Linked DNA regions of Homo sapiens. The protein of the gene in region 2 purifies or fractionates together with the protein of the main gene of each other region. This does not show direct contact. Each region holds a gene or a part of one and is shown on either strand. Other genes may lie near its edges.

Region 1 (12,305 bases), on a different chromosome or scaffold from region 2:
AACAGCACATTTAAAAAAAAAAAAAAAGAAAGAAAAAGAAAAAAAAATTTCCTGATAAAGCCAGTAACTTTCAAATAATCTTCCCAAGTTATTTTTTTTAGGATCCTAGTAAGTGTAATGATTCAACAGCCAGTCTTTGTCTTCCTAATGGACTTAGTCAAGCTTTAACTAATGCATACGCATACTGCTTAAAAGGGCAGCTGTCAGAATGCTTACTCCTCCTAGTAGAAAAACACTATAAGCACAAAGTGTTGTCATATTAATTGAGACACCTCAACTTCAAGGCACATCTGTCTCTGGGTCTTTGGATAATCAAAATGACCACTAAAAACAGAACAGCGGTATCTCCAATGGGGCCAACATGAGCCACCCCCAATCCTAAGAGACTCCTGTGAGATGGGACCTGGGATACACATATGTTTTGCAGAACCAAACTGAGTATCCATCTAAATGTAGCCATTTGTTTCCAGTTTTTACTTTATGTCCTGTTAAGGCTGGGAGACAAAAGTAATGAACAGACACGTAACTCTTGGCCTACAGTGACAATCCACAGTTAGCTCACTAGCTGACTAAGGTTTGGTAGGGAAGAAAACTGCTCCCCAGGTCTAAAAGGGCTGCTGCTTGCACTGACAGTCCAAGAGCTGCATAATGAACATCTTGGTTTTCGTTTTTTATTTTTGAATTTCCGCATCACCAAAAGTAAGCTGGCTCTGTCTGTCAAGATGCCCAGGCTGTGTGGCAGCAGTGTCAAAGGCTGCCTCTTGCTCCAAGGCACTGCCATCTGCAGCAGCACAACATTTTGTCTCCGGAAAATAAACACATCTGCCTTTGCCAGTGTCCTCCCACTGTGCTGCCCATCTGGAGCAGGTGAGCTGAAGGCAAGCCTCGGCATGGGTGAGACGGGGGCAAGTAGAGAAGATGAGGCCTCAAGGGAGATGGCACATGGAGGAAGAAGGCAGTGCTGCGTCATGTCACATCCTGCTAACCACGTTTGCCAAAAATCATGTGAAATTACCCTTGTTAGTGATATTTCAATCACATGTAACAAATGGTTGGTAGTGTATAAGGGACAAGACTTGCAAAGTCAGGGTTTCACCTGGGCCATCTGTTCACAGGACCTCACTGATACCAATAAACAGATGATGCCTTTGTGCCAGCCACCTAAGGCATGAGAAGAATAATTCTCATGGTCAGAATAGAAGGCTCAAAGCAACAGGTTTCTTCTAGGACAGGAGCATGCTATACATGCCTACTACTAACCAGACCAAACAGCCTTGAATTAAGGCCAGAGTGTGGGGATAAGCTTTGGTCACTGCTGGAAATGACTAAGACCTGAAATCCTTTCCTACATATTCTTTCCCATTCCCTAAAAAAATAAATAAATAAATAAAAATTCAAGTCTGGTTGTGGTCTTGACATAAGATTTTTAAATCATGCTATTTGGGGGCTGGAACAAACCCTAAAAACCATCCAATCAAATGCTTGCTTTCTCCCAAGGTTTTCAACTAACTCACAGCAGAGCTAGTATTAACCCTCCTATTGCAGGGCTCTTTGGTGGTAAGGGAACAGTGATGGCACCTTTTCAAATAAAACTTTACCTAGAATTCCTATCTATCAAATAGATAAAAGCTGAGTTGAGCTATATGAAGCAGAGCTAAAGTGCTGAACACTTGGCTGGGTGCAGTGGCTCATGCCTGTAATCCCAGTACTTTGGGAGGCTGAGGTGGGCAGATCACTTGAGGTCAGGAGTTGGAGACCAGCCTGGCCAACATGGTGAAACCCCGTCTCTATGAAAAATACAAAAATTAGCCAGGCATGGTGATGCATGCCTGTAATCCCAGCTACTCAGGAGGCTGATGCAGGAGAATTGCTCAAACCCAGGAGGCAGAGGTTGCAGTGAGCCGAGATTACACCACTGCATTCCAGACTGGGTGAGAGAGCAAGACTCTGTCTCAAAAAAAACAAAAACAAAAACAAAAAAACGCCAGGCACGGTGGCTCACGCCTGTAATCCCAGCACTTTGGGAGGCCGAGGCGGGTGGATCACGAGGTCAGGAGATCGAGACCATCCTGGCTAACACGATGAAACCCCGTCTCTACTAAAAATACACAAATTAGCCAGGCATGGTGGTGCACGCCTGTAGTCCCAGCTATTCGGGAGGCTGAGGAAGAAGAATCACTTGAAACTGGAAGGTGGAGGTTGCAGTGTGCTGAGATCATGCCACTGCACTCCAGCCTGGGTGACAGAGCGAAACTCCACCTCAAAAAAAAAAAAGCATTGCACACTGGTCTTCCTTGGTGAGTATCCTGAAGCAGCTTCACAGAATAAAGTTTGAAAACCACTACATCAGGCTGGATATCTTTTCAACTTATTATTTCTACTGTTTACTTGCTAAGCATTTACAAATAAATAGGTAAAAAGATAAATTACCAAAGGCTCATGAAACACTTCGGAAAAAGTTCTAATGAAAACTCTTTGGCCAGTGTGGCAGTGAAACCCGACGATTACACATCATGGAGGCCAGCATCCTACTCTAAGCCTTGCCACAAAATTTCACGTTCCCAAGGACACCAGATTTGCCTGGTTTATACCTGTCTCTCTATCTGTTAAATGGAGATAATTTTAGGGCATTCAGATGGGCTACATCAAATATGCCACATAATTCATTTTAAGTAAGAAATAGGCTGGGCATGGTGGCTCATGCCTGTAATCCTAGCACTTTGGGAGGCCAAGGCGGGTGGACCACGAGGTCAAGAGATCGAGACCATCCTGGTCAACATGGTGAAACCCCGTCTCTACTAAAAATACAAAAAAGTAGCCAGGCATGGTGACGGGCGCCTGTAGTCCCAGCTACTCAGGAGGCTGAGGCAGGAGAATGGCATGAACCCGGGAGGTGGAGCTTGCAGTGAGCCGAGATCGTGCCCCTGCACTCCAGCCTGGGTGACACAGTGAGACTCCGTCTCAAAAAAAAAAAAGAAAAGAAATAGCCCCATAACTCATCATCCTCTGACATTAGTCAAACTGTAAGGAGAATTTGAGAAAGGAAGCCTTTTTTTTAGACAGAGTCTTGCTCTGTCACCCAGGCTGGAGTGCAGTGGCATGATCTCAGCTCACTGCAACCTCCACCTTCTGGGTTCAAGCTATTCTCCTGCGTCAGCCTCCTGAGTAACTGGGATTACAGGTGTGTGCCACCACATCTGGCTAATTTTTTGTATTTTTAGTAGAGATGGGGTTTCACCATGTTGGCCAGGCTGGTCTTGAACTCCTGGGCTCAACTGATCTGTCCATCTTGGCCTCCCAAAGTGCTAGGATTACCGGCATGAGCCACTGTGCCTGGCCGAAGAAAGCAAGCCTTGAGCATAGTATAAGCCCTTTTTCTGCTCTTTGGGGTCTAACCAACAAGAAGAGACCATCTTAAATGTATACAAGCATTTAAATAAACAACTAAACTGAAGGCTTCTGAATTTTTTCCCCATCTGTCTTTTTTCGTCTTCTGATGATTTCATGCCTTTAATTCCTATACAAATTAACATCCATTTATTAAGAATACTTCTTCCGGTATTCCATTCATTAAGAATTCCCTTCCAGTGTATAAATGCATAATTAATATTCTCAGCAGAATATATAGACCTAGCTGGATGACACTTTTTCAGCAAACACTTATTGAAAACCTACAATGGACATATATTCAAACTTATCTATATAATACTATGTGCAATTTCGACATTTTAACAAAACTGAACATTTCATGTTTCCCTAAATGCACAAATACACTTGTACATTAGTCCACTAATTAATAAAGAAGACACCATGAAAGAGTTTGATATTTGAAGCTGGAATCTTAACCTTTAACATAGTATATATGTGCTTTGGAAACATATCTAAGAGAAATACTTAACATCCTTGTAAGTAAAATGGGGATAACACACATCTTATGGTGTCATAATAAGGATACTTAATAACAGATACATATGTAAGTATTTAGAATAGCACTGTCCAAGAGAACTTCTATGATGATGGATATGTTCCAGATCTGTGATGTCTAATACAATAGTTGTGGCTATTGGGTACCTGAAATGTGGCTGTGACTGAGGAACAGAATTTTTTTTTTTAAGAACAAAAGTTGATTTAGCATTCAGGCAAAGTCTACCAGGAGATTTTCCACCAGAAACTGAATTTTAAGTTTTATTTAATTTTAATTAACTTAAATTTAAATAGCCCCATGTGGCTAGTTGGCTACCATACTGGACTGTGTAGATCTAGAAAAATCCTAGCACATAATATATGTTCAATGTTATTTTACTTCTATTTTCCCTATCAATACCAGCATGGTGGCTTGGCGCCTGTAGTTCCAGCTATTTGGGAGGCTGAAGTGGGAGTATTGTTTGAGCCCGGGAGGTTGAGGCTGCAGTGAGCTGTGACTGTGCCACCTCTTAGGTGACAGAGCGAGACCCTATCTCAAAAAAAAAAAAAAAAAAAAAAAAGCACAACAAATGATCCCTCACGAAAAACTAACTTATAGCCATTAAATTGCTTCTTTGACCAAACAGCAATCGCAGCATAAAAACACAAGTGGGCTGGGCATGGTGGCTCATGCCTGTAATCCTAGCACTTTGGGAAGCAGAAGCGGGAGGATTGCTTGAGCCCAGGAGTTCGGGACCAGCCTGGCAACATGGAGAAACCCCATCTCTACAAAAAATTAGCCAGGCATAGTGGTATGCACCTACAGTCCCAGCTGCCAGGGAGGCTGAGGTGGAAGGATCATCTGGGCCTGAAAGGTCAAGGGGCTGCAGAGAGCTGTGGTCATACCACTGCACTCCAGCCTAGATGACAGAGTGAGATCCTGTCTCAAAAAAAAAGTAAGAGCTTTGCATTATTACCTTATTTAATCTTCATAATAACTTTTTGAAATTGGTAAGTAGGGAAATTAAGCTTAGAATTTGTCCAAAGACATCCAGCTAGTAAGTCAGTAAGCAAATATTCAAACCCAGGTAGTCCAATTCCAGAGACTATGCTCTTAACCACAATGCTAAATTGCCTACATTTTAATGAACCAGTTTATGTAAGATTCATTATATACTCAGTGGTAGTAAATGTCCTCCCAACCAAACCACCACACATACACAGAGCAAATTAGAAATCAAACAATTTGAGCTACAGACACAGAAGTTATACATGGTAACTGGCTGACCCAAAATGAGTCACATCTGCCAACTGGTGTGACCATATAAATATACTAAATTTGGTGACTTTGCACTTATTAGGAACACTGACAAACTATCATCTCTCTTCCCAGAATAAGACGACTAAAATATAAATTCATATTTTAGAACTAAGAATCTATTTTGATAAGGAGATGGGGGAGCAGAGATTGGACCTACTGGAAAAGCTCAGGCAGAGGTAGTCAATATTTACCAGAGCCCCATGTCACTGTCTACAAGGGATATTTGTTAAGACATCAAACATTTCTGCTAGGAGAAGATTAAACCAGATTCACTGCATTTGCATGAAGCACACTGCCATTCTTATCTCAATTCCAAAAAGGAGCTTAATTCACTTAATGTCTGTGATATTTATGACACAGTATTTATTGTGCCCAAAGCTGGAATTCTTACTCCGGTTCTGCCTGATAAGTCAGAGGAACATCGTACATGGCAAGTCATAAAATGCTGAACACCACAGGAACTTCTGGGTGACAGAAAAACTAATATCTGACCCATTTTCCTTTCTCAAGGAGGAGTGAAGAAAAGACCACTTGGTGACAATGACTTTCTTGGAAGAAAAAAAAAAAAAAAAAAATATATATATATATATATATATATATATATATATATTTTTTTTTTTTTTTTTAAAGAAAAGACTACTGATCTTTCACCCAGGACAAAACAATGTATGTAAATTTGCCTCCTCCTCTCAATCCTACATGTCTCTAGCTTCTCTTCAAACTTCATGATCCCTCAGATTGTACAAGCCCTTGGTCAAAGCTAGCACTGAGAGGTACTATTTATTGAGAAATTATCAGTCAAAGATTATTAGGCACTAGAAAATAAACTGCTTTATAGATCTGTAGTAAGTAACTTTAAAAAAAGTAACTTGTTATTTTAAGCAAGTACAGATGAAAACTCAAACCATAATAAAAATATGAATAGCATCAGTGTTCTAGAAACACTACTGAAGAACCAAAGGCAGAATAGTCAAATAATTATGGCACCATTATTTTAGCTTTGTCTGACCTGCTGTGTGACCTGGAGCTAGTCCCTTTGACACTTTATGCCTTTCACTTCATCTCAGTGATAGAGACTATCTTTCTCAGTGGAATAGTGAGTAGATTAAATTATTAAGCAAAATGCTTTGGGCAAAAGTCACATGAATGTTAAATATTATGATTTACAAGCATTCATTTTCCTGGCACCCCTGTGGGGTTAGGAAGTTATCTCCATTTCATAGATAAGTAAACAGGCACAGGGGGTGAGATCACGTGGTAAGGCTCTATTTATTTAGTCCCTGTGGGAAGGGAATAACACACACCTTTAGCAACCATATGAACTTTCCTAGCACATCCTACACAATCTTTAATGCATTCAATCCTTAACTTAGTGTTGCATCTTTTAACATGCTGTCGATGAAATGGAGACAGCTCTAGAATAGCAACAAGGCTAGAATAAGTAAGGAGGAACAATGCTGTATGCTTTGGGAAAAAGTCATAGAAAAACACAGGTAAGTACGCCAGGTACAGTGAGTGGCTCATTCCTATAATCCCAGCACCCTGAAAGGCCAAGGCCAGCAGATTGCTTGAGTCCAGGAGTTCAAGACCAGCCTGGGCCACATGGTGAAATCCTGCCTCCACTAAAAATACAAAAAATTAGCCAGATGTGGTGGTGCACACCTGTAGTCCCAGCTACTTGGGAGGCTGAGGTGGGAGAATCACCTGAACCCGGGAAGTTGAGGCTTCAGTAAGCTGAGATCACACCACTACACTCCAGCCTGGGCAACTGGAGTGAGACCCCGTCTCAAAAAAAAAAAGAAAAAAGAAAAAGAAAAAAAGAGAAACACAGATAAGCAATCTCGAGATAAAAATCCACATTACCGGCCAGGTGCGGTGGCTCGCGCCTGTAATCCCAGCACTTTGGGAGGCCAAGGCGGGCAGATCACCTGAGATCAGGAGTTCGAGACCAGCCTGACACCTGACCAACATGGAGAAACCCCGTGTCTGCTAAAAATACAAAATTAGCTGGGCGTGGTGGTGCATGCCTGTAATCCCAGCTACTTGGGAAATGGAGGCAGGAGAATCACTTGAACCCAGGAGGCAGAGGTTCCAGTAAGCCAAGATTGCACCATTGCACTCTAGTTTGGGCAACAAGAGTGAAACTCCATCTCAAAAAAATAAAAATAAAAATAATCTGAATTATTATTTTCAAAGTTCTACTTTCACTAACACATAGAGACTTTCAGTCACAGGTATTAAGTAATATGGTTTGTTACAAAAACACTTTGAAAAAACTAAACGTACTCTTACTATATGATCCAGCAATCACACTCCTTGGTATTTACGCAAAAAAAAACTTATGTTCAAACAAAAACCTGCACATGGATGTATACATTAGCTTTATTCATATTGCCAAAACTTGGAAGCAACCAAGATGTCCTTCAGTAGGTGAATGGATAAATAACCTGTAGTATATCTAGACAATGGAGTATTTTTCAATGTTAAAAAGAAATGAGCTATCAAGCCATGAAAAGACATAGGGTAACCTTAAACGTGTATTACCAAATAAAAGAAGCCAATCTGAAAAGGCTGCATAATCCATGATTCCAACTATATGACATGATGGGAAAGGCAAAACCATGGAGAAAGTAAAAAGATGAGTGGTTGTCAGGAGTTGTGGGGATGGAGAAGGATGAATAAGTAGAGTACAAAGGATTTTTAGGGCAGTGAAAATACTCTGTATCCTGTAATGGTAGATACATGTCATTATACATTTGTCCAAACCCATAACATCCACAACAGCAAAAGTAAACCCTAATGTAAACTATGGACCTGGGTGATTACTGTCAATATAGGCTCATCATTTGTGACAATGTATCACCCTGGTGGAAGATGCTGATAATGGGGAATGCTATACATGTGGGTGAGGAGGAATGTGGGAAATCTTTATACTTCTTCTCAATTTTGCTGTGAACCTAACACTGCTCTAAAAAATAGTTTTTAGGGGGAAAAAAAAAGGGTAAGTTGTCACAGGCCTTCATATTGGTGTGTCCCAACCAATTCTCTGGGAATGAATATTTGCCCTTTGGGCTGTACCTATTAATAACAACTGTGCACAAAGACATTGGACTTAAGAATGAACAAGTAGCAACAGGAGGGGTTCTGGAAGGCCAAAAAAGGGCAAAAATACTACTCATGTATAATGAGAATATAAAAGAAGCACAAAGGATTTTTCTGCTCTATCTAACAATGTCTGATATATTACTTACCCGACTCCGAAGACAGTCAGCCAGGTTTCGGCGTGTGAAGTTAGCTGCTGCCGTGGGAGACAATTCATATCCTGGTAGAAGAGATAAAGAGTCATACTTAAAGTAAAGCAGAAGGAATAACAGTGCCCCAAATTATTCACTACCCCTGTTCCTAAAGCCCACCATCTTTTGTACACTCAGAGTAAACAAAGCATAGACTGAGGGGTACAATCCTACTCTAGTCCCTTTCCTCATGCAACAGCTATGAAATAGCTGGTTAGTACTGACAGCAATTCTTGGCCACAAACAGAACCAGTTCTATAGTGGAATGAAACTTCTAGCAGCCTTGCTTAAACTATTCATTCATCAACACACTGTGGTTTCTGCCGTAGAAGGAAAGGAACACGAATACACAAGAAGTGAAAAAAAAAGAAAGGCGTCTTAGATGCCAATCTTTTAAAAGTTTATTTTAAAAAGGATATTGGGGGCCAGTCACAGTGGCTCATGCCTGTAATCCTAGAGCTTTGGGAAGCCAAGGTGGGAAGATCGCTTGAGCCCAGGAGTTTGAGACTAGCCTGGGCAACATAGTGAGACCCCCATCTCTAAAAAAAATTTTTTTTTAAATTTCTAGGCATGGTGGTACATGCCTGTAATCCCAGCTACTTAGGAGGCTGAGTGGAGAGGATCAATTGACCCCAGAAGTTCAAGTGAGTTATGACTGTGCCACTGCACTACAGCATGGGTGACAGAGCAAGACCCTGTCTCTAAAAAAACGAAAACAGGAACAAAAAGGATATTGGGAAAAGAGAGGCTAGAAGTTAGGACTACCTCAGAGTCATAGTTTATTAAAAAAATATTTTAAATGTTACTTTATTAAGAAGTATAATATGACTTTCAAAAGTATAAGCCACAGAAAAAGAACATTTCCATCATTCTGCAGTATTTTTAAAAATAGAGTATCTCAAGTGTTAAAACTTCAAAAATAAAAGTTGTCATACCAACAAAGGTACAACCCAGAGGAATAGCATCAGGTGTGCATGTAATAACGCATTCACTTTGGAGCTTAATCCCCCTGTAGAATGGGACCAGTGCCAAAAGGCACAAGAATGATCCATAACTCAGTGGGCCCACACAGAAAATGTCAGTATGGAAAGACACACAGCAGTGTGGTTAAGTAATTGCTTACAACATTTCAAATACCACTGTCAAATTAGGAGAGATTCAGATTCAAATCCTAACAAATATTTATTGAGCAGCAACTATGTTTCAGGGTCTATGCTGAGTGTTTTCACATGTATTATTGTACTTTATCCTCACAAGTCTATTAGTGCATATTAAATCATAATGAAAGCAATCCTTGGCCAGGTGCAGTGGCTCATGCCTGTAATCACAGCACTTTGGGAAGCGGAGGCAGGCAGATCACTCGAGCCCAGGAGTTTAAGACCATTCTGGGCAACATGATGAAACCCCGTCTCTACTAAAAATATAAAAATTAGCCAGGGGTGGTGGTGCACACCTGTTTTCCCAGGTAGTTGGGAGGCTGAGGTGGAAGGATCACCTGAGCCTGGGAATTCGAGGCTGCAATGAGCCATGATTGTGCCACTGCACTCCAGCCCAGGCGACAGGAGTGAGACCCTGTCTCAACAACAACAACAAAAATAATAATAATAATTTAAAAAAAGAGGCCAGGCACAGTGGCTCACACCTGTAATCCCAGAACACTTTGGGAGGCCCAGGTGGGTGGATCACCTGGGGACAGGAGTTTAAGACCAGCCTGGCCACCATAGCGAAACTCTGTCTCTACTTAAAATACAAAAAATTAGCCAGGCATGGCGGTGCATGCCTATAATCCCAACTACTCAGGAGGCTGAGGCACGAGAATCACTTGCACCCAGGAGCTGGAAGTTGCAGTGGGCTGAGACTGCACCACTGCACTCCAATCTGAGCAACAGAACGAGACCCTGACTCAAAAAAGAAAAAAAAAAAAAAAGAAGGAACCTAGACAAGTGGGAATACTATTCAATTCTTTACTTAACCCCCTAAACACCACTGAAGATCTGACCATTATCCTAAAGGCAGAAAAGTCATGCCTGATTATCTGCATATAGATTTTCTCTTTCTTTCCCTTATTTTAGCTCAGTTCTTTAACTTATATAAGAATTACTATATAGAGTTACATACACAAAACTGTACTTGGCAGGTAATTTAAGGGTCTTTAAGGGCAATTTTAACCAAACACAGTTTTTGTCTGTGCACTGACTTTAGACCCTAAAACCCAGTAACAAACAACTCTTGCTACTCTTGTTCACTCTTCTCCCTCTCTCAGGACAGCCAGTGAAGTCATACAGTACCTACTGGACTTCAGAAGCATTACTGACATACTTCATTTGTTATGCAGGCAAAAAGTGGAACCACTGGAAAAAAAAGCAGAATTCTTGAAATATTCTAAACCTGCATAAACCTAAGTACCATGTACTTTATGTTCCTGAATGTCAGGACTAAGCCTTATTCATCTTTGAATTCTCTTAAGTATTAAGCAGAATGCTTACCATAGAAGAGGCCCTCAAAAGTATTTATGGAATTGAATACAAATGCTAAATCCACTGCCCAAACTATGTGAATAGATCTTTGGTCATTTTACACATGCAAGTATATTCAAATTAACTTCCTTCATAGCTCCATATTATACCAGTGCAGTGTATAACGTTGTTATTGAACTGTGAGGTAAGTGGAAATAAGGTTTTCTCTGCCAGACCACCACTACAAACATTCCTGGATCAGAGGCCTAGTGGCTAGTATCGTTTGCTAGGGAGGTTTTCCCAGTGGATAAGAGTTCATTAGCCCCAGAGAGAGCTCACAAAATACTTCACAAAAGTCTTAATTATCTCTCTAGAAGGAAACCTACCAGAGAGTAAGGCAGAACCCTTTTATGGCACAGTAAATACTTATAGTTAGTTACACAATGCTTTAGGTTTACAAAATATTTTCATATGTATTATTCATTAGTATTATAATTCATTTCAGAGATAAGGAAAATAAAGTCCCAGAGAAGATAAATGACTTATCACATAAAAAATAGTAAAGCCAAGGTTTACTTAGGTTTTTTGACGCTGAGATTCAGATTTTTTTGTTTCTTTGTTTTGAGACAGGGTCTCACTCTGTCGCACAGGCTGGAGTGCAGTGGCACTATCATGGCTCACTGAGACCTTGAACTCCTGGGCTCAAGTGATCTTCCCACTTCAGCTTCCTGAGTAGCTGGGACTATGGGTGTGCACCACTGCACCCAGGTAAATATTTTTATTTTTTATAGAGCCAGGGTCTTGCTTTGTTGCCTAGGCTGGTTTCAAACTCCTGACCTCAAGTGATCCTCCCATCTCAGCCTCTCAAAAGTGCTGGGATTACAGGTGCTAGCCACTGTGCCTGGCCAGGTTCAGATACTTTTAAACTCAAACCACATCCTCTGAGATATCTAACACTTAAAAAGTCTGATACTACCATCCCTACCTCCAAGATGGTGTTGGGTTTTTTTTTTTTTGGTTGGTTTAAAAAAATTTTTTTTAGAGACAGAGTCTTGCTGCCTTCCAGAGTACAGTGGCACAATCATAACTCACTGCAGCCTCGACCTCCTGGGCTCAAACGATCTTCCTGCCTCAGCCTCCTGAGTAGCTAGGGCTATAGGTGCATGCCACCACACTCAGCTAATTTTTAAAAACTTTTTTGTAGAAGGCCGGGCGTGGTGGCTCACACCTGTAATCCCAGAACTTTGGGAGGCCGAGGTGGGCAGATCATCTGAGGTCATGAGTTTGAGACCAGCCTGACCAACATGGAGAAACCCTGTCTCTACTAAAAAT
Region 2 (12,547 bases):
CTCAAAGTTAAATTCCCCCACACTCCTAATTTTTGGCTTAGAGTTACTACTTTCTAATACTCTGAGTCTCACTGTTCAACTGGAAATGTGCAATTATGAGCTACCATTCCTCCTGTTCTATTTGGTCAGGTTGATGCTACAAGCAAGTCCTTCCCTGACAGACCATCCATGTTCATTTAACATTTGAAAGGTAGTGTGGTGTAGTTAAGAACACAGATTCTAGAGCCAGATGACCTGGGTTCAGATCCCAGATCTCTCCCACTTAGCCATCTGACTTTGAGAAGTTACTTGACTCTCAGTGTCTAGGTTTCCTCATCTGTAAAATAGGGATGATGATACTACCTACTTCTTAGGGCTTTTATGAGGATTAACTTAATTAACATTTACAAGGTACATAGTGCCTGGCACCTAGTAAACACTACATAAATTAAGTATTGGTTAAACAAAAATCTTTTTAAACTAAAAGCTTACTATGTTCCAGGCAGGCACTGTGCTAAATAAATAGTAAATAGCCATTCTTTGTTTCATATTTTATGAATTGAAGTTTTTACACAATCTCATTAGAGAAAGTAATTTGGTAAGTTTTCCCTCTTTTACAATTAAGGAAACAGGAGTTTTGAGAGGCTATACAATCTGTACATAGACACATAGCTAGTTACAGAACAGGTCTTCTGACTAAATCTTATGTTTCTTCTCCTCCACAATTGTATCTCTTCAGTTGAACATACAAGAGTTAAGGCATCAAAGATCAGTGTATTAGTCTGTTTTCACACTGCCAATAAAGACATACCCAAGACTGGGAAGAGAAAGAGGTTTAATTGGACTTTACAGTTGCAGAATGGCTGGGGAGGCCTCAGAATCATGGTGGAAGGCAAAAAGCACTTCTTACATGGCAGTGGCAAGACAGAATGAGGAAGAAGCAAAAGCGGAAACCCCTGATAAACCCATCAGATCTCATGAGACTTATTCATTGTCATGAGAATAGCATGGGAAAGACCACCCCCCAAGATTCAATTACCTTCCCCTGGGTCCCTCTCATAACACATAGGAATTATGGGAGATATCATTCAAGTTGAGATTTTGGTGGGCACACAGTCAAACTGTACCATTCTGCCCCTGGCCCCTCCAAATCTCATGTCCTCACATTTCAAAACCAATCATGCCTTCCCAACAGTCCCCCAAAGTCTTAATTCATTTCAGCATTAACTCAAAAGTCCACAGTCCAAAGTCTCATCTAAGACAAGTTAAGTCCTTTCTGCCTATGAGCCTGTAAAATCAAAAGAAAGCTATTTACTTCCTAGGTATAATGGGGGTACAGGTATTGAGTAAATATAGCCATTCCAAATGGGAGAAATTGGCCAAAACAAAGGGGTTACAGGGCCCATGCAAGTCCGAAATCCAGCGGGGCAGTCAAATGTTAAAGCTCCGAAATGATCTCCTTTGACTCCAGATCTCACATCCAGGTCACACTGATGCAAGAGGTGGGTTCCTATGGTCTTGGATAGCTCCACCCCTGTGGCTTTGCAAGGTAAACCCTCCCTCCCAGCTGCTTTCACGGGCTGGCATTGAGTGTCTGTGGATTTTCCAGGCACACAGTACAAGCTGTTGTCAGATCTGCCATTCTGGGGCCTGGAGGGTGGTGGCCCTCTTCTCTCAGCTCCACTAGGCAGTGCCCCAGTAGGGACTCTGTATGGGGGCTCTGACCCCACAATTCCCTTCCACACTGTCCTAGCAGAAGTTCCCCATGAGGGCCCCACCCCTGCAGCAAACTTTTGCCAGGGCGTCCAAGAGTTTCCATATATCTTCTGAAATCTAGGCACAGGTTCCCAAACCTCAATTCTTGACTTCTGTGTACCCACAGGCTCAACACCATATGGAAGCTACCAAGGCTTGAGGCTTCCACCCTCTGAAGCCACAGCCCAAGCTGTAAGTTGGCCCCTTTCAGCCATGGCTGGAGTGGCTGGGATACAGGGCACCAAGTCCCTAGGCTGCACACAGCGCGGGGACCCTGGGCCGGGCCCACGAAACCTTTTTTCCTTCCTGGGCCTCCGGGCCTGTGCTGGGAGGGGCTGCCATGAAGGTCTTTGACATAGCCTGGAGACATTTTCCCCACGGTCTAGGGGATTAACATTAGGCTCCTTGATACTTACGCAGATTTCTGCAGCCAGCTTGAATTTCTCCACAGAAAATGCGTTTTTCTTTTCTACTGCATAGTCAGGCTGCTAATTTTCCAAACTTCTATGCTCTGCTTCCCTTATAAAACTGAGTGCCTTTAACAGTACCCAAATCACCTCTTGAGTGCTTTGCTGCTTAGAAATTTCTTCTGCCAGATACCCTAAATCATCTTTCTGAAGTTCAAAGTTCCACAAATCTCTAGGGCAGGGGCAAAATGTTGCCAGTACCTTTGCTAATACATAACAAGAGTCACTTTTACTCCAGTTCCCAACAAGTTCCTCATTTCCATCTGAGACCACCTCAGCCTGGACCTTATGGTTCATATAGCTATCAGAATTTTGGGCAAAGCCATTCAACAAGTCTCTAGGAAGTTCCAAACTTTCCCACATTTTCCTGTCTTCTTCTGAGCCCTCCAAACTGTTCCAACCTCTGCCTGTTACCCAGTTCCAAAGTTGCTTCCACGTTTTCGGGTATCTTTTCAGCAATGCCCCACTCTACTAGTACCAATTTACCGTATTAGTCTGTTTTCATGCTGCTAAGACATACCCAAGGCTGGCCACAGTGGCTCATGCCTGTAATCCCAGAACTTTGGGAGGCTGAGGCAGGTGAATCACCTTAGGTCAGGAGTTCAAGACCAGCCTGGCCAATGTGGTGAAACCCCATCTCTACTAAAAATACAAAAAAAAATTAGCCAGAGGTGGTGGTGGGCGCCTGTAATCCCAGCTACTTACAGTTCCACAATGGCTAGGGAGGCCTCAGAATCATGGCAGAAGGTAAAAAGCACTTCTTACATGGCAGTGGCAAGAGAGAATGAGGAAGACAGAAAAGCGGAAACCCCTGATAAATCCATCAGATCTCATGAGACTTATTCACTTATTCACAAGAATAGCACGGGAAAAATCGGCCCCCATGATTCAATTACCTCCCACTGGGTCCCTCCCACAATAAGTGGGAATTCTGGGAGATACAATTCAAGTTGAGATTTTGGTAGGGACACAGCCAAACCATATCAATCAGAAAATACAAAACCCATGGGTACAGATCTAAGCACACAAAGATTATATAGTGGCTGCCACTCATGTAAATAACCAAACATATGTCTCTTCCTGCATAAAGCTTTCTATTTTTCATTAAACTCATTCCTCCCACAGTCCAGAGAACTGGATTTTCTAATCTCAAGGTATTGGTATTTCCAATGCTTTCACTTATTTGATGAAACATTTGATTGCACTCTTCATGCAACTATTAGGACCAACTGCAAGAAAGAGGTTAAATTTTTAATCTCCACTTCCAAAAATAATTTAAAAACAGTGTCTCCTACTAAAAGGCCAATTAGAAGAGAGAGCCATAAATTCATATTTATATTTACTCATATATGAATACAAATATGAACTATAAATGTATATTTACTCCTATGTTTACAATGTGTTCTACTGAAAATGTAAAGCAAGTGTCTTAATTTAGGGTAACGTATTCCATTTTAGACAGAACTATAACAAATGTTATATTCTTCAATTAAAAGTGGACCTTTTGAGTTAAACTGAAATACAGTTTAAATATTTTCTGTAAGACATAAGAATAAAAGGGAATCCTACGAGAGCTAGAAAGGCAACCAGCACTAATATCGCATATATTGTGATGCGTAGTAGTGCAGAGTTTGGAGTGAAATCATCTGAGTTCCAGGTGACCCTGGACAAGTGATTGCTCTTCTAGACTAGTGGTTTTCAAAGCATGGTCCCTGGGCTAACGAACAGCATTGACCTCACTTGGTAATTTGGTAGAAATGTAATTGGGGTGGAGAGAAGGGACCTAGGAATCTGTGTTTTAACAAGGTCAGTCCTCCTCACCTCTGATGAATGCTCAAATTTGAGAGTCAGTACTACAGGCTCTTCAATGTTTTCAGCCTTAAAAAAAATGTGCCAGAGGGCATGGGCTCTATATGGTTAATAAAGCAGCATAAAAACGTTACGAAGCACCTATCCCACAAGTGGAAATTCCAAGTTGGCAAATGCCTTAAAGGGCCAAGCGAAACAAACACCATAAAAATTGTAAATGCATATGTCTTTAAGATTTGTTTAAAAGTTACTGAACCTTATTTCATCATTAAGACCGTTCACACCAATGAAGCAGTGTGATATAAATGCATGAGCTATTTTGCTTTCACATTTAACCTTCTTTCTTAGTATTTTGTATCATTTCAGATCCCATCAGATTTATAAGCTGAAAAATGATTTGGGGTGTGGGGAGGAGTGAAGTTGGCAAACCCAAACAAGCAAGCAAAGAATACACTTCCATATGGTCAACCTAGGGTCAAGAATAGCTGTTTAGGTTGGAGTTCTACCTAACATACTGTGTTGACTTTGCCTAGTCAATCCACCTCTTGGCCTCAGTCTTCTCAACAAGATGAGGCTACTAATATTCACTGGACAGGAGTAGTGTTAAGGTATGAAGTAACACCTGTGACAGCACTTTGTAAACTGTAAAACACAATACAAATGGTGTTCATGATGGAATAAAAACATGCTAAACAATTATCTCATTGAAGCTTCACAATCCTGAACCAACAGCTGTTGTCCTCATTATACAAATGAGAATCCTGAAAAGAAATTAAACTTGCCCGGGACCACAAACCTAAAAAGTGGCAAATGAAGAAATTTTAAAGTATAGCAGTAAAAGTAACACTTTGGGAATTAACGGGAGGTTAACTTTCAACAATCCCAGCAAAAGATAACCGTGAAGCACTAAGAACTCCGGCGAGAACCGCACACCAGCAACAACTGCGAGGTGGTGCAGGGTCGGGGGCTGTGCTAACTGACTTAGGGGAGCATTAGGAGGCAGGTGGAGGCTCCAGAACCAAAAAGGCCGGGATGCCTTCAACAAGGAGGTTGAGGGGAGGGATGGACAAGCCTGAGAAGACGGAGGAATGAAGTTTGGGGACGCAAAACCCACTGGGAAACAGAAAGCCCTCCAAATAGGCTAGACTGCTGGATGGGAGGACAGCGGCCCCCGCGACTAAGCGGGCCGGGGCTAGGGGCCTGGGCGTCAGACTAGGACAGACACTATCCCCAGCCCGCCGCAGTGCAAGCCACGCCGCGCGGGCCGCAAAGCCACTGTCCCCGAGCCCCAACAGCGTCTCCAAGGGCAGCGCGCCAGGGTGCCCCGCAACCCCTCACCTGGAGCGCGGTGGAACCTGCGGCAGCGGACGCAGAAACCGGCCGCTGAGAGACCGAAAGCGACCGGAAGTGAAGGGCGGGACCGGAACCGGCTGAAAAACCGGAAGTGGGTGGTTTGAAACGGAAATATGTTGGGGACGGAACAACTGCTTCCTTTGAATCTCTTCGGGTGCTAATCAAATGGCCGCTGTAAGGGATCTCCACAAAGCCACGAAGAAGCCAGGCCTTTCCGAGACTGTAACCGCTGTGCAGATAGCGCCGATCCCTGGGTGGCCGCTCTCTCGTTCTGCGCGTGCGCTCGTTCTGGGCTGGGAGCGGATGGGTGCTGAGGCGTGTGACGTCTCTAGTAGTGTCGTAACTGGGTGTGCTGCCTTTTCCAGGTGTACTGAGGTCTTCGTGAGATTCAGGGCTAGGACTCGTGTGGCTGTGTCATGTTCCGAATGAAGCTTAAAAGGTGATCTTTGAGAACTGAAGACTTGAGACCCCTCCATGGGCCCAGGGGCTGCCAACACTAATAATTTCAGAGACTTAGAATCTGAGGAGAATCTCCAATCTAAGGGGAAACGGAAGAGGGTCAGGAAAGAGAAGGGGCAAGCTTAAGTGACTCAGAATCCAAGAAGCAAGTCTCATAGGAGAGCTGCGATCGAGGTTACCATACAGTATCCAATCGTCTCAACCTTCCCATCCATACTTCCATGCTGTCTTTCCTCTGAATGCAAGGAAAACCGGTTACACAAACGCTGACAAAAGAATGTCAGACTTGAATGGAAATTCGGAGCAGTACCCATCTGGTCCATACAGCGAACTCCCAGTGAGCACCACGGCAATGTAACTAATTCATGTTTCCCTCTTGGCAGTGCGGGAAAGGCAGCAAAGAGCCAAGTTTTGTATCTTAACAGTTCTTTAGTTAAGAGGCACACGCTATTTTGCATTCTTCCCTACTTTTGATAATTTTTGGCTGCACTAGTAATGCATGAGTATCTGCTCATTTAAAAAACTCAAACTTTTTCAGTGAAAAGTATGCCCTTTTCTTCAGAAAGTCTTAATTAAAAAAAAAAAAAAAATCATTGCCCAGACCAACATTTTCAAGCATTTTCTCAAATCGTTTTCTTGGAATAGCTGCATAGTTTTGGGTCTTACATTGAAGTTTGGTGCTCATATGTGGGAGCTAAAAAAAAGTTGACTCCATGGAGATAGAGAGTAAAATTGTGGTTACCAGAGGCTGGGAAGGATAAGGAGGGAGAAGGAGATGAAGAGAAGTTAAAAGGAGCGAAAATATGGTTAGACAGAAGGAATAAGTTGTAGCGTTCCACAGCACAGTAGGGTGACTATAGTAATCAATAATTTATTTTGTATTTCAAAATAGAGGAGAAAGGTTGGGATAGTCTCAACACAAATGATAAATGTTGGCCGGGCACAGTGTGGCTCACACCTGTAATCCCAGCACTTTGGGAGGCCAAGACAGGCAGATGACTAGAGGTCAGGAGTTCAAGACCAGCCTGGCCAACATGGTGAAACCCAGTCTTTACTAAAAATAAAAAAAATTAGCTAGGTGTGGTGGCATGTGCCTTTAACCCTAGCTACTCGGGAGGCTGAGGCATGAGAATCACTTGAGCCTGGGAGGTGGAGGTTGTAGTGAGCCAAGATCATGCCACTGCACTCCATCCTGGGTGATAGAGCAAGACTATCTCAAAAAAAAAAAAAAAAAAAAAGAAAAGAAGAACTTTTGCCTCCTGTTGCTCCCTGGAGCCTCTCTTCTAATGTGTGGAGGATAATATACTTGTCCTTCATTCATGCATCTCTGTAGCAGCTAAAGATGCCTGGGAATTCCTCCATAGATTGTCAGGTCTGAGAGTCTAAATAATATATGGAAACAATTTCACAACATCAGATGACAAACTGTTAATATTACTGTGACCACATTTACTTTGGAAGATAAAAGGACATTCCTGCACCTAGGCCAGAAATCCCCCACTACTCTGCTTTTATCTCCATCTCCCCCAGACTTTTTTCTCCCCTTTTCTCTCTCTGGCCATTTTCTTTCTCTAGCAAGTGTGTTCTCTTGCCCAGCTCAGATCTACTCCCCTCAAAAAGCTTTCCCTCTCTTCCCAGTTGGAAGACAATCCTCTTCAAAAATTTAGTTCCCTCTAGAAGTTTGTCTCTCTCTTCTAATACCTACTCCTTTGCCTTTATCTTGCCTGCAGTAAGAGAGCTGAAAATATTTAGAATCTGCCCCACATGACAGAATACAGGTTCTTAATGAAGCATGCCCAGTTACTGCCCTTCTCTATTCAGCATGCTTTCCCCAAACTACTACTTAAAAACTCCATTCTCTTCAAACCTCAGAACTTCCAATATACTCCTTTGCTCTAGGCAGATGACATTGTCCCATATTTTGGCAATTCTTCAAACCTCTGAATCTACAAACTAAGGTATATTTTCAGTCATCCTCACTCTTGCTTATTTCAGTTGAGGCAGTTCGCTTCTATTTGAAGCCAACCCTTTAACTTGTTCTCCGGCTTCTTCCTTCTAAGGAAGCTTTCTATAAATCCAGGATTCCCTTCTCTTGCTCTTGTATTTTTAACCTCTTTCTACTGGCTCATTCCCATCAATAATAAACATGCCATGGTATCTTGCCATCATAGCCATCACCCTTTCCTTTCACAGATGGATATTCAGAACATTGTTTACAGTTGTCTGAACTTGACATAATCTATAATTGTATACTTCTTGGAAATATTCTTTCTTTAGTGACATTCTCTCCCACTATATTGTAAGCATATTAGTTTTCACACTGCTATAAAGATGCTACCTGAGACTGGGTAATTTCTAAATAAAAGAGGTTTAATTGACTCACAGTTCCACAGGGCTAGGGAGGCCTCAGGAAACTTACAATCATGGAAGAAGGTGAAGAGGAAGCAAGGCATGTCTTACATGGCAGCAGGAGAGAGAGAGAGCGTGCACGCAGGGGAACCTGCCCCTTTTAAACCATCAGATCTCGTGAGAGCTCCTCATTATCATGAGAACAGCATGGAGGAAACCACCCCCATGATCCAATCACCTCCCAGCAAGCCCCTCCCTCAACACGTGGGGATTATAATTTGAGATGAGATTTGGGTGGGGACACAAAGACAAACCATATCAGTAAATTTTGTTAAGGAACAGACAATTTATTCACCTTTCCATTCTCAGAACCTAGCATGATATTGGCTAACATAGATGCTCAATAAATATATGCTGAATGAATGAATAATGAATGTTAAGTAATAAGAGCTTATGATGTAACAGTTGTCCTTTGGTATTGGTAGGGGATTGGTTCTAGGGCCCCCAATAAATAACAAAATCTAAGGCTGCTCCAGTCCCTGATATAAAATAGCATAGTATTTGCATATAACCTATACACATCCTGTCATACACTTTAAATCATCTCTCAATTACTTATAATATCTAATACAATGGAAATCCTATGTAAATAGTTGGTATACTGTATTGCTTTTACTTCCATTATTTTTTATTGTTGTCTTATTATCTTTGGGTTTTTCCCCTAATACTTCAAACCCGAGGTTGGTTGAATCCGTAGTTTTGGAACCTGTGGATCCAGAGGGCCAGCTGTACATATTACGCTTGTAACAATACATATCAATGAATGATTACAATTTGTATATAACTCTGGAGGTACAGGAAAGGTCTGAAATGCACACTAAAATCGTGATAGATCATAGCTCTATAGGATGTATTCAGTAAATATTTGTTAGGTGAATTAATGAAATTATCTGTGGCATCACAGAACAGGCAATTTCCATCTTGTTTATATTTTTATGTACATCTGAATTTTTTACAGTTTTACATTACTTTTATTTCTTTTTTATATGAGAAGTTCATAAAGGCATTCTTTTAAAAAATATTGAAATAACACAGATACGTTCATAACTCTGCTAACTTTTTGTAGTGCCTATCATTGCTTTTCTAGACTTTATACACACACATACACACATATGTATAGTTTATGTTATTTTTTTTTTATCTTGCTCCGTTACTCAGGCTGGAGTGCAACTGCACCATCATGGCTCACTGCAGCCTTGACGTGCTGGGCTCAGGTGATCCACATCAGCATTTCGAGTAGCTTAAACTACAGGTACGCGCCAACATATCCAGCTAATTTTGTGTGTGTGTGTGTTTTCTAGGGCAGAGTTTTGCCATGTTGCCCACGCTGGTCTCGAACTCTTGAACTCAAACAATTCACCCATCTTGGCCTCTCAAAGTGCTGGGAATTACAGGTGTAAGCCACCATGCCTTTTATGAGACTTTTATGAGACTTTTTAAACTCTATTTTTAGATAATTGTAGATTCTCCTGGGAATCTACAATTATCTAAACCTACAATTATTTAAAATCTACAATTATTTAAAAATACCATTATTTAAAAATAATTATAAATATTTTATAATTATAATGATACTTATATTTATAATTATAAATACATTACTTTATAATTATAATTTTTAATTATTATAAACTTCTGCAAAAAGTCATTTGTACCCTTCACTCAGTTTTCCCCAGTGAATTACATCTTATATAACTATAGTACATCAAAACCAGGAAATTGACATTGATGCAATGAGTGTACATATAGCTCTATGCCATTTTATCACATGCGGATTCATGTAATTACCACTATGATCAACACAAAGAACTATTCCATCACCACAAACATAGCACTTGTGTTACCTCTTTGTACTCACATCCATCCACATTCCTCGGACCACTCCTAATCACTGGCCACTAATCTGTTTTCCACCTCTATAATTGTGTCATTTCCAGAATGTTATGTAAATGGAATCATACAGTATAAGTGTTTTGAAATCAGCCTCTTCATTCATCATAAGGCCCTTGGGATCCAGTCAAGCTATTTTGTGTATCAATAGTTCATTTCTTTTTATGGCTGAGTAGGATTCCCTGTGTGGATGTACAACAATTTGTCTAGCCATTCACTTACTGGGCATTTTAGTTGTTTCTGAGTTTTGCCTTTTAGAAATAAAGTAGACTGTTTGTTTATAAGGTAATTCGTAATCTGTTGAGACTTAAGTCTTCCAACCCATATTTTGTTTTCTGTTTGTTGCTTCTATTTTTAGTTTTTCTATTTTTTTCTTGTTTTTCTATTGATTTCTTGAATATTATTTTAGAATTCTATTTTGATTTGTCTGCAAGGTTTTTGAGTGTATCTCTTTGTATAATTTTTTTTAGTTTATCTCTGTAAATTTTGTAGTGGTTGCTCTAGGTATTACATTATATTTACATAACTTAAAACAGTCAATTAGCGATAACATGTTAGTAGTTCAAGTGAAGCGTAAGGGGATTTATTAGAGGGATTGGCTCACACAATTGTGGAGGCTGAGAAATCTCTTGACAGGTCGTCTGCAAACTGGAGGCTCTGGGATGCTGGTAGTGTGGCGGGGTCTAAGCTCCAAGGCTGCAGAACCAGGGAAGTCAGTGATGTAACTCCGAGTCCAAGGACAAAGGTCTGAGAACCCAGTTGGTTGGGGAGGGAGGGTGACTTTTGTGTAAGTCCTAGAGTTCAAAGGCTGGGGAGCCTGGAGTTGTTTTCCTAGGACAAGAAAGGAAAAAGTGCATCCCAGTTCTGGCAGATAGAGTGACACATTCACCTTTTCTCTGTTTTTGTTCTTTCTGAACCCCTAGCAGATTGGATGGTGCCTGCCCACATTGCGGGTGGATCTCCCCCAGCTAGTCCACTCAGACCCACACACTAATCTTTGCTGGAAGCATCTTCACAGACACACCCAAAAATAATGCTTTACCAGGTTTCTAGGTATTCCTTAATCAAGTCAGATTGACATCTAAAATTAACCATCACAGTAGGTCTGCTAGCAACAAAAGCTCTTAGTCTTCCTTCATTTGAGAATGTCTTGATTTCCGCTTTATTCCTGACGCATATTTTCACTGCATACAGAATTCTGGGCTGGCTGTTCTTTTCTTTTGGCACTTGAAAAATGTGCTTCTTTCTTCTAGCCTCCAATGTCTTAGATGAGAAATCCTGTGACTTTCTAATTGTTTTCTACTCTACTCATAAGCCATTGTTTCCCTTTTGCTGCTTTCAATATTTTTATCTTTTGTCTTTAGTTTTCAAAAGTTTGACTAATGATGTGTCATGATGGGGATTTATTTGTGTTTATCTTGTTTGGGGTTCACTCAGCTTCTTTAACCTGTAAGCTTATGTCTTTAGCCAAATTTGGGCAATTTTCAAACATGAATTCTTTAAACACTTTTTGAGGTCTACCCTCTTTCTCCTCTCCTTCCAGGGCTCTGACAGTGCAAATGTTAGATATTTTGGTATAGTCTACAGGTCCCTGAACCTCAGTTCATTTTTTTTCAGTCCATTTTTTTCTCCATTGTTCAGATTAGATAACTTCTCTTGTTCTATCTTCAGGCTCATTCTTTCTTCTGTCCCCTCCATTCTTCCATCCATTGATTTTTTTTGGGATATTGTATTTTTCAGTTCTAAAATCTCCATCTATTTTTCTTTATACCTTCTATTCCTTTGCTAACACTTTTTATTCATTTTGAGCATGTTCTTAGTTGTTCATTGAAGCATTTTTATGATGACTGCTTTAAAACCCTTCATGTAGGCTAGGATAACGTCATTCCAACATCTGTATTATCTTGGTGCTGAATCTTATTTAAATTTTCTGTTTCAGCAGGCTTCCTCTGACACTGAATTGTTAGGAGAAGGGAGATGCCACCTCCAACCTCTCTGACTAGGGAGAGAGTCAAAGCTCTCCATCAGGCCTCCCTTGACAACCTAGGTTGGTGGGGAAGGTATCTCATTACTGCTGAGCAGGGTTGGGAGTTCAGGCTCCCCACTAGGCCTCCACTGATACCACCCTGGTTGGGAGGGAGAGGGATGCCTCATTACTGCCCCATGTAACTGAACCTAGGTTCAGCTGCTCACTGCTTGAAAGCCAGACATGAAAAATGATGGTTGGTGGAAGGAAAAGCAGATTTATTCAGATAGCCAGCTAACTGAGAAGATGGTGGACCATCATTCTAAAGTACCATCTTAAGTCAAGACAAATTTTAGGCTCTTTTTGTGTAAGGGTAAGGGGACAAGGAGGGAGTTGAGATCAAGAGATGACCAATAACCACAGACATCTCGGCACCAGTGAGGGTCCACAGTGGTTGGGA

Evidence for each region.
Region 1: the proteins of UBLCP1 (region 2) and PSMB2 purify together in Homo sapiens (affinity purification with mass spectrometry; 2 studies listed by BioGRID and IntAct, with this or other methods). This does not show direct contact.

Annotation. Positions count from the first base shown.
Region 1 is NC_000001.11:35,622,799-35,635,103, forward strand, and holds part of PSMB2 (proteasome subunit beta type-2), read right to left. Parts: intron 8,740-12,305; exon of another isoform or gene 8,638-8,739; intron 8,547-8,637; coding exon 8,476-8,546; intron 1-8,475. UniProt on the Homo sapiens protein: Non-catalytic component of the 20S core proteasome complex involved in the proteolytic degradation of most intracellular proteins. This complex plays numerous essential roles within the cell by associating with different regulatory particles.
Region 2 is NC_000005.10:159,256,162-159,268,708, reverse strand, and holds the start of UBLCP1 (ubiquitin-like domain-containing CTD phosphatase 1), read right to left. Parts: upstream 5,420-12,547; 5' UTR 5,349-5,419; intron 1-5,348. UniProt on the Homo sapiens protein: Dephosphorylates 26S nuclear proteasomes, thereby decreasing their proteolytic activity. Recruited to the 19S regulatory particle of the 26S proteasome through its interaction with 19S component PSMD2/RPN1.